Regions from separate parts of the Homo sapiens genome. Here region 1 is linked to region 2. Evidence: fine-mapped expression QTL. Tissue or cell type: whole blood. Region 2 holds a variant in brackets; the other region holds the start of a gene. Each region is shown on its reference strand, or each on the opposite one. Region 1 holds the start of MRPS34 (mitochondrial ribosomal protein S34). Region 2 overlaps LOC107986606 (a long non-coding RNA gene).

Region 1 (4,385 bases), not on the chromosome of region 2:
GGCCGTAGAACGGGCGTTCACGCAGCTCGGCGTAGTGCTCACGCAGCAGCTCCTCGGAGGCCTGCGGAAGGGTCAGGCCGCCTGCGCCCGCACCCGGCACCTAGGCGTCCCCAGGTCCCCGCTCCCCTTCCCCCCACACCGCGCCCCCGCTCGCTCACCGCGCCCCCACCTGCACCAGCTTCAGCGCCACCAACTTGAAGCCCTTCCTCTCGAAGCGCCGCACAATCTCGCCCACCAGCCGCCGCTGCACGCCGTCCGGCTTCACGGCCAGGAAGGTGCGTTCGTGTGCGCCGGTGCAGGCTGCGGGGCAGGCGGGGACGGGCCGTCAGGCCGGCCCAGCACCGGCCACCCGCCCCCGGCCCGCGCCGCGCGGCTCACCCGCGGGGAAGAGGTTAGCGAAGATGGTCAGCACCAGGCAGATCATGATGGCGGTGCGGGAGCGGGATCCGCGGGGCGGGGCGGTGGCGCCCGGGGCGGGGCCTGCGCTTAAAGAGGCCTGGTCGGGGCGCTGCGGCCTCCGCGGGGAGGCTGCTTCACTTGCACCCCGGAACCCGGCAGCCGTGGGGGGCCGGAGGGCAGCTGCGGAGGCCAAGTCTCCTCCAGCAGCTCGGACACTAACTGTATCCCCCACAACCCGCCCAGGTGGTTCCACCCACGCGGCGCCCTGCTCCGCACCGCCCGAACCCCGCCCCCCCCGCGCCCCCCCGGCCAGGGCCACGACCACAGCGTCAGCCCTTCTCTCCCCGGTCCTAAAGACAGAGCGCAAAGACACCACGACCCTGGGTACTTCTTTTCTCTTTATTCCCTTTCATAGCTTCTGCCGGGATCCAGGCAGAGAGAGCACTAATGGGGGAAAGGGAGCGAGCGCTTCCCGCTTTCCCCAGCGTGGGCCCTCGGAGTTGGGTGTGGGGGCAGCAGGGCCAGAGGAAAGGCACAGGTGGCGATTTGCCCCAGCCCTCCCCCCTAAGATGCAGACCCTCAGAACACGTCGCGGAAGGTGAGCTCCCTGCTCCGAGAGGCAGACTCGGGTGTAACGCAAAGACGGTTTCTTTCATCAATAAGGTCCCCACTGCCTCACAGCCCCTAAGGCCACCCGCTGGTTCTGGCATTCTAGACGGGGGTGCCCTTGGCCCTTCCTTTGTCTTCCTGTTTTGCAGGGTAATCCCAGGGTTCCATGCGTATCCTCTGCACATTCAGCATGGGCTCCTCGGTGCTTGTGTCTCCATTTTTCTGTCGTTCTGCGATAATCATGGCCCGGAGGAGAGGCGGGTACGGCACGGAGGCCAGGCTGTCTTCCGGCGCCGGCGTGAACGCGGTGAAGGCCTCCTCCTCGTGCTTGGGCACCAGCCGCCAGTCATGGTACATGACGTGTTCGATCTCCCGCGCCTCGCTCTCAGTCTTCCCTGATGAAGAAAAAGAGGCGTCTGCACACACTTGCTGTGCCGTCGGCGGTCGGCATCGAACTGCCGGGCACCCGCTCTCCCGAGCCTTACCTTTGAAGGTCAGGATGCCCCAGGCCTTCCCGTGGTCCAAGTTCTGCAAAGCCAGAAGGAAGCGGGGTCAGCTCGCAAAGCTCTCGGCCCCCGAGGTCAGGAGGTGGGAGCCTCAGCCACGCAAACCTGCAGGGAGGAGGGGAGGCGGGGAGACCAGGCGGCTGCAGGGGCGGGGTGCGGACGGGGTGCACGCACCTGCGCCGTGTAGTCGGGCCGCACCCGCGTGAGGCGCCAGTAGCACGGCTCGTCGTGCTGCCACAGCCAGGACTTGCGCGTGACCAGGCGGCCCAGGCCGAAGAGCGGGAGGCGGCCGAGCAGCTGCAAGAGGCGGCTCTCGCGGCGCACGTCGGCCCAGGCCCGGACCGGCAGCCGGCGTCCAGAGAACGGCCGCGTCAAGGTCTCGTAGTCCACCGCGTAGAGCTGGGAGTCGCGCGGCCTGTTCAGTTGCTCCCGCAGGGCGCGCACGCGGCGGGCCAGCTCCGCGATCAGCCGCGGACGCACCTTCTTCCGCGCCATGGCGGGTCCGCGTCCTCAGCGGTCCGGCCGGAAGTCACCGGAAGAGGCCGGTGTCCCAGGCTAAAGTGTTCGGTCGCGGCCGGAAGCGAGGAAGAGGTCGGTCCGGCCATGGCGCGGGTTGGACCCGGGAGGGCGGGGGTCTCTTGCCAGGGCCGGGGCCGGGGACGGGGCGGGAGCGGTCAGCGGCGACCTCCAACCTGGGAGATCTCAGACTCCGACGCTGAGGACTCCGCCGGCTCGGAGGCCGCCGCGAGAGCCCGGGACCCAGCGGGTGAGCGCAGGGCGGCTGCCGAGGCGTTGCGGCTGCTGCGGCCGGAGCAGGTCCTGAAGCGCCTCGCGGTGTGCGTGGACACAGGTGCGGCGGAGGGCACGGGCGATACTCGGGGTAGGAAAGGCCTTTCTCCGCCAGGCGGCGCCCTCTGTCCGACTGGGCGGGGCGCGCGTGCCGAGGGGCCTGGGGCCGGGCCCGCCTCCCAGTCGGGGGTTTGTGCCGAATGGAGACTCCCCGGTCCGGCCACCCGCCCAGGTAGGGCGCTCGCGAGGGTGGAAGGAAGCAGTGACCGCGCTCCTCTCCCCCGGTCCCAGCCATCCTGGAAGACGCCGGTGCCGACGTCCTGATGGAGGCCCTGGAGGCCCTGGGCTGCGAGTGCCGCATCGAGCCCCAGCGCCCGGCCCGCAGCCTGCGGTGGACCCGAGCGAGTCCCGACCCCTGCCCCCGCAGCGTGAGTGGTCGCGGGTTCCCGAGGGCCAGCCGCGAGTTGGCTGTTTTGCTTCCATGATTTCAGCCCTGGAGCTGTCCCTGAGGCAGCTGCCCTGGGCCGTGCGCGTCTCGCGGATGGGTAAAGCAAGGATGGAGAACGGGAAGTGGAGGTGCCCAAGCCGTTCTGCTGGTATAGAGCCGAGCTGGCTGGAGAAGGTTCCGTCTCGATTCAGGCTGTGGTCTGGATTCCTGCCAGCCACAGAGACCTGGCCTGAGCTTGGCCTTGGCAGGAAAGGGAACACTGGGCTTCTGTAGAGCAGGCCTGTCAGGGCCTGGGCTTGGCTGGGGCCACGAACCGCTTTGCTGCTGGACTGCCCAGGCAGGGCCCCTGGGGCACCCGGGGTTGAGACAGGCAGCAGCGCGTCCCCATGTCCCCACAGCTGCCTCCTGAAGTGTGGGCTGCAGGTGAACAGGAATTGCTGCTGCTGCTGGAGCCCGAGGAGTTTCTGCAGGGCGTCGCCACACTGACCCAGGTGCTCGGGTGGTGGCAGTAGTCCCTCTCTAATCAGGAGGGGTGGGTTCCCAGCCGGGAGGCGCCTGCTCCGCCGGTCCCTGCCCCTGTAGACGGGGCTGGAGGGGGCATGGGGCAGGCCAGGACTCCTCTCTGATCCAAAGCCGTAGAGGTTTCTAGGGTGAGATGGAGAAAGCTCCTGGGCACCTGCGGAGGCTACAGCTGCTCCTAGAGGATCCTGAGAAGTGTCAGGAGGCCGGGGTCCGGGCAGTAGGCTGCAGGCTTCGTCCTCTGACAGCAGACAGCCTGGCCCCTGCCTGCGGGGAGCAGTGCTCAGGTGCTGTGGTGCCAGGTAGCGTGGGGTTAGGCTAGACCCCCTGCCAGGTCCCTGTGTCCCAGGATCAGTGTCTCTCAAGCTGCTGCTTTGTGCTAGGTCAAAGCTAGGCTGGAGTACAGAGGTGGACCAGGATGAGGGGCTCAATGGAACTGACATGTGCCCGAGCAGCCACTCCAGGGTCTCCTTAGCCTCTTTGGCCTCGTGGGAGGCACAGAGCTGGTTTTCTCAGAAGGGGTAACGGAACAGAGGCTCCTCTCGGCACCACTGGCTCTTTTTCAGGCTTGCTGTTCTGCAAACCAGCTGTGGCCTGGTGGCCCATGGCCATAGGCCGCAGCCTCCTGTGAACAACTGTGCCACACGTTCTCATCTTCAGATCTCTGGCCCAACCCACTGGGTGCCCTGGATCTCCCCCGAGACCACCGCCCGGCCCCACCTGGCTGTCATCGGGCTGGATGCCTACCTGTGGTACCGCTCACTCTCATGCCCACAGCAGGGCTGGCTGGGACGGGGGTTCAGGGGAGGTGGGCACACTTCTGGGGTTGCTGTGGCACAGCTGATCCCACTTCTCCAGGTGGGCTCTGGCAGAGGCCAAGCTCGGGCAGGGCAGGCCCCATGGGGAGCGGGGAGGAATGGTCACCTCTGCTCAGGTCTCGCCAGCACGTTTCCCGGGGGACACAGCAGCCAGAGAGCCCGAAGGTGGCCGGTGCCGAGGTGGCCGTCAGCTGGCCGGAGGTGGAAGAGGTGAGGGCCTGTCTGAGCTGGGTGAGTCAGGTGGCCTGGGTCCCAGTGATTGGGCTGCTGGCTGGGTTTGGTTCCCAGCGTGGTACA
Region 2 (4,385 bases):
ATTTATTAATTTCCAGCATTTATCATCTCATTAAGTGGCACCAGGATCCACGGAGTTACATCTATGATAACTAAGCATCTTCAAGTATCTCTTTTTCACAAAACTCATAACCATCCCATAACCAAGACCTATTATTTTTCTCCTTAAGCATCTCTTTAATCCACCCATTATTATTTTTAAAATTTTCACTGCCATCAAAGTCCAAAACACAGCCAAGTCTTACCTGGACCATTGTAGTAGCCATTGAACTATTTTTTTCTCATTCACTCTGCCTTCCCCCAACCCAGTGTACATACTACAATCAGAGTGATCTTTAAAAAGACAAATATGATGTCATCTTCACTGAAACTCTTCAGAAATCTCTCATTGCTTCTAGGATTAAAAAAAAATTGACTTGGCATACAAGGTCCTAATTCTCCAACCTCATCTTGCAATTTTTTTTGTTTTTTTGTTTTTTTAGACGGAGTCTCAGTCTGTCACCCAGGCTGGAGTCCAGTGGCACGATCTCGGATCACTGGAACCTCCACCTCCCAGGTTTAAGCAATTCTCCTGCCCCAGCCTCCTGAGGAGCTGGGATTACAGACGCAATCCACCATGCCCAGTTAATTTTTTCATTTTTAGTAGAGACGGGGTTTCACCATGTTTATCAGGCTGGTTTCAAACTCCTGACCTCATGATCTGCCCGCCTTGGCTTCCCAAAGTGCTGCGATTACAGGCCTGAGCCACCATGTCCGGCCTCATTTTGCAATATTCTATCCCTTCTCTCTGCACTCTAGCCATACCAGCTCTCTTTAAATTTCCTGAACTTGTCACATGGCTTTTGTACATATTGTCTACAAATGTATATTTGTACATATGCACACATATACTGTCCATATGTATAAAATGTTAAATACATAGTTCCACCTCCTCTCATTCCTCTCTGTGAGTGCCGTGGACTGCAGTTGCTTCTAATTTGCTATCTTGGCCTCTCCTCAACTAAAATATTTTTTAACTTCCAATGGGTTTATCAAGACATAACCCCATTGTAAGACAAGAATATCTGTACTGTACTCAAGAATTTACTGTTTATATCTTCCTTATGTTCATACAAAAAGATATAAAACCCAAAACTGATTACTGATTTTTAGCACATGATCCATAATGCTATCTTATAAAAAGGAGTAAAAATGTAATTAATTTGAACTAAATTTGTTCAATAATAGCCCAACCACAATACATGTTAATTTATTATAATCTAGGAACCCGTAATTTATATACACTGAGGTAATTGCTACTGTTTCTCTAACCAAATCAATAAACCGTCCTCCACTGTTAGGCCTATGTCCTGGAAACTAATCAACTGGAGTTACGTGTTAGTCTGTTTCTTTCTATGTTTATTTGAATATCTGGTGCATATAAAGATGACATGGTTACAAATTTTCCCATTTGAGATATCAATAGCTAGAACTGTTTTTTTCTTTTATCTTACAGTCAAGCTTTGAGCATTATTTTCTAGGTTCTTTACAACTCTTGTATTAGTTAACAAATAAAAAGAATCCAGTAAAATGCCTGAGACATTGAAGGTGCTCAATAAATGTTATTTACCCAACTAACCTTACAAGCAATTTTAATTTACCTTAATGTTTTCTCAAATTTTCCCATTATTATCCTTGTCTTATTAAAAATATAAAAAATCACAAGTGCCTTTATTTTCTTTTAAAATTTTTTAAATGCTTATTTTTCTTTGAAGTAATCTACAGAGAAAAATAACTTGCCAATTTGAATAACTCTGACAAAGATCTTAAGCCCCATCTTTAGGAGCCAAACAACAGTGGCAGAAAGAGACATGAAGTAAACAATGACAAAAATACTACAATAAAATTATGCTCTGTGACCAGAAAGATCAATAAAGTTTTCTTATTTAGGAGGGTTAGCA[A/G]AGTGGTATTTATGTTATTTACAGGAAGACAAGGGGGGTAAAAAGAGATACCAGGAATATGCACAAAGAATGTGACATATTCCAGAATATTTAAGCACCTGACCCAGATGGAGTTTAGAATGAATGGCAGGGGTAGATGGGATGAGGCTGGGTAGGCAGGCACATGCTAGATCAGGGAAGTCTGTGTATTTGCCTTAAAGGAGCAGAAAAACATCAAAGGATTTAAAGGATACAAGCAATGTGATGAGATTTGGCTTTTTGAAACCTCACTGTAGTTGCGGCAGCATGGTGCTTTCATTTAATAAGGCCTCTCCAAAGAGAAAATGAGGGCAGTTTAAGAGCTATATAATTTACAGTAAGTCATATGACAGCTATCACTAACAGTGTATCAATTTACTGCTTTTTACAATAGAGGAAGAGAGCAAGCCTTGGATTAGTACACTAATGAAAACTAACCTTTTCCCCCATAAATGTGAAGATTGCATAGAGAACAATTATGTCAGACTAATACAATTTATTTCTATGATGTCATCTATCTGGGCTTGAGTAAGGACTGATCCAGTTCCAGATGGAAATCAAAATAACAAGCTAGACTGATACAATCTAGAACACTCCACCACTGAGAGAAAGAACATGAAATTAGAGGAAGGGTTGATTATTTCTGTTTGGAAACAGAGGGTAGTGGGTGGGTGATCTGCCTATAGCTACTGTTGTTTAGTATCTTTATTCATCAATGTTTGAGTGCTTACCTATTAATTTTTCATATGATAAAAACTTTGTTGAACTTGACTACTTGAAAAAGCAAACATCTTTACATTTTTAATGCATATTATATAGATGAAAGTACAATGTAAACAAATGAAAAGCAATATGTGAAGAAGAAAACAAACTCTAAGTAAAGAAAAATTGTATCAGAAAAGTTTAATGTGTTCCTGGGGCCATGAAGATCCTCAGGTATATACATGCGTTCATGAATTAAGTTATGCTGGTAGTTTAACATGCACGTATTTTGCTGCAATGTGCAAATAAAAGTATGTAAGAAATTTAAATGATTCCTCTTAAAGGAGCATTTCATCCTACTCAGGGAAACAAATTTATTTTGACCTCATATTTCAACAATAATACTGTCATAAACCCTTACACTTACTAAATTAATCCTCATAATAACCCTATAATACAGGTACTACTGTATCTCATTTTAAAGATGAGGAAGCTGTTGGCCGGGCATGGTGGCTCATGCCTGTAATCCCAGCACTTTGGGAGGCCACGGTGGGTGGAACATTTGAGATCAGGAGTTGAGACCAGCCTGGCCAACATGGTGAAACCCTGCCTCTACTAAAAATACAAAAATTAGCCGGACGTGGCAGGGGGCTCCTGTAATCCCAGCTACTTGGAAGGCTAAGGCAGGAGAATTGCTTGAACCTGGGAGGCGAATGTTGCCATGAGCCGAGATCGCGCCACTGCACTCCAGCCTGGGCGACAGAGTGAGACTCCATCTCAAAAAACATAATAAATAAATAAATAAAAAAGATGAGGTATTTAAGTGACTTATCATAGTCACTAGTAAATTGTGGAGTAATTTCAAGATCTAGAGAAAAAATTTTAGCAGATAAAGATTTAAAGCAAACTAAAATTATTAGAAATAGGTCCGGGACATTATTTATTGCCACATTTAAATACTCACTACGAGAATACAATAGCATTAGACATGTCAGGAATTTTATAAAGCATGATCAAAATTTGATTTGATGTAATGCACAGTAACATGTCAAACATATCAGAAATATTGTTTAACAGTGACCTAGTAAGGATGATTTTGACCCAAGTTGTTATTTGAAGAGAAAACTGGAGACTATTTCTAGCAGCATATTCTTTTTCCTCTGGAGACCTTTCACATGCCAACAACCTGACAGATGATGAAGAATGCATTATGACAAAACTGACCTAAAACTTTCAATAAGATTCACAATGTCATTCTTATTTGCAATGCTTTTTAGGTACTACATTGCAATTTAGAAAACAATGACTCCAGGGAGAAGCATGGTCTACTATTTAGTGCATTGTGTAACATTAAGATCTACTGAAATTTGCTGGTTCTTTGAAATAAAATGAATCTTTAGTGTTTGACATTATCCTGCATCATAAATTCCTAAGGAATGGAATGAGCTTTGACTGCCTTACCTTGAGAATAAGCATATTCACGTAAAGTATATAAGACAAATACTGGTTTAGATGAAGCTGGGCCAGTACTCCCGGCCTCCGCCATTTCGGACTGGGAGCTCCGTGGCGCAGGCACTGAAGGCGGCGGCAGGGCCAGAGGCTCAGCGGCTCCCAGACCTGCTGAAAATGACTGAATATAAACTTGCGGTAGTTGGAGCTGGTGGCGTAAGCAAAAGTGTCTTGACGATACAGCTAATTCAGAATCATTTTGTGGACCAATATGATCCAACAATAGAGAATTCCTACA

What was found. PIP is the estimated chance that this variant, and not a neighbour inherited with it, causes the effect.
Region 1: MRPS34 starts here. The variant in region 2 is fine-mapped to the expression of MRPS34 in whole blood (TOPMed, PIP above 0.99).

Annotation. Positions count from the first base shown.
Region 1 is chr16:1,771,111-1,775,495 of GRCh38, forward strand. MRPS34 (mitochondrial ribosomal protein S34) reads right to left here and starts at 2,024. Exons shown (of 3, transcript NM_023936.2): 1 at 1,689-2,024; 2 at 1,494-1,536; 3 at 785-1,403. The coding sequence starts at 2,009. The coding sequence ends at 1,111. It overlaps NME3 (NME/NM23 nucleoside diphosphate kinase 3), which reads right to left and starts at 433. Exons shown (of 5, transcript NM_002513.3): 1 at 379-433; 2 at 170-300; 3 at 1-61. The coding sequence starts at 424. EME2 (essential meiotic structure-specific endonuclease subunit 2) reads left to right here and starts at 1,700. Exons shown (of 8, transcript NM_001257370.2): 1 at 1,700-2,364; 2 at 2,595-2,731; 3 at 3,150-3,242; 4 at 3,931-4,022; 5 at 4,205-4,298. The coding sequence starts at 2,118. RefSeq lists silencers at 179-768, 1,639-1,778, 2,139-2,238, 2,269-2,578, 2,589-2,698 and 1 more and enhancers at 1,069-1,158, 1,949-2,088, 2,946-3,734.
Region 2 is chr6:54,766,319-54,770,703 of GRCh38, forward strand. All of the region lies in intron 1 of LOC107986606 (a long non-coding RNA gene), which reads right to left. It also overlaps the pseudogene KRASP1. Among named protein-coding and RNA genes, the nearest start is that of FAM83B, 78 kb to the right of the region's middle. The variant A/G (reference allele first, on the strand shown) is at 1,919.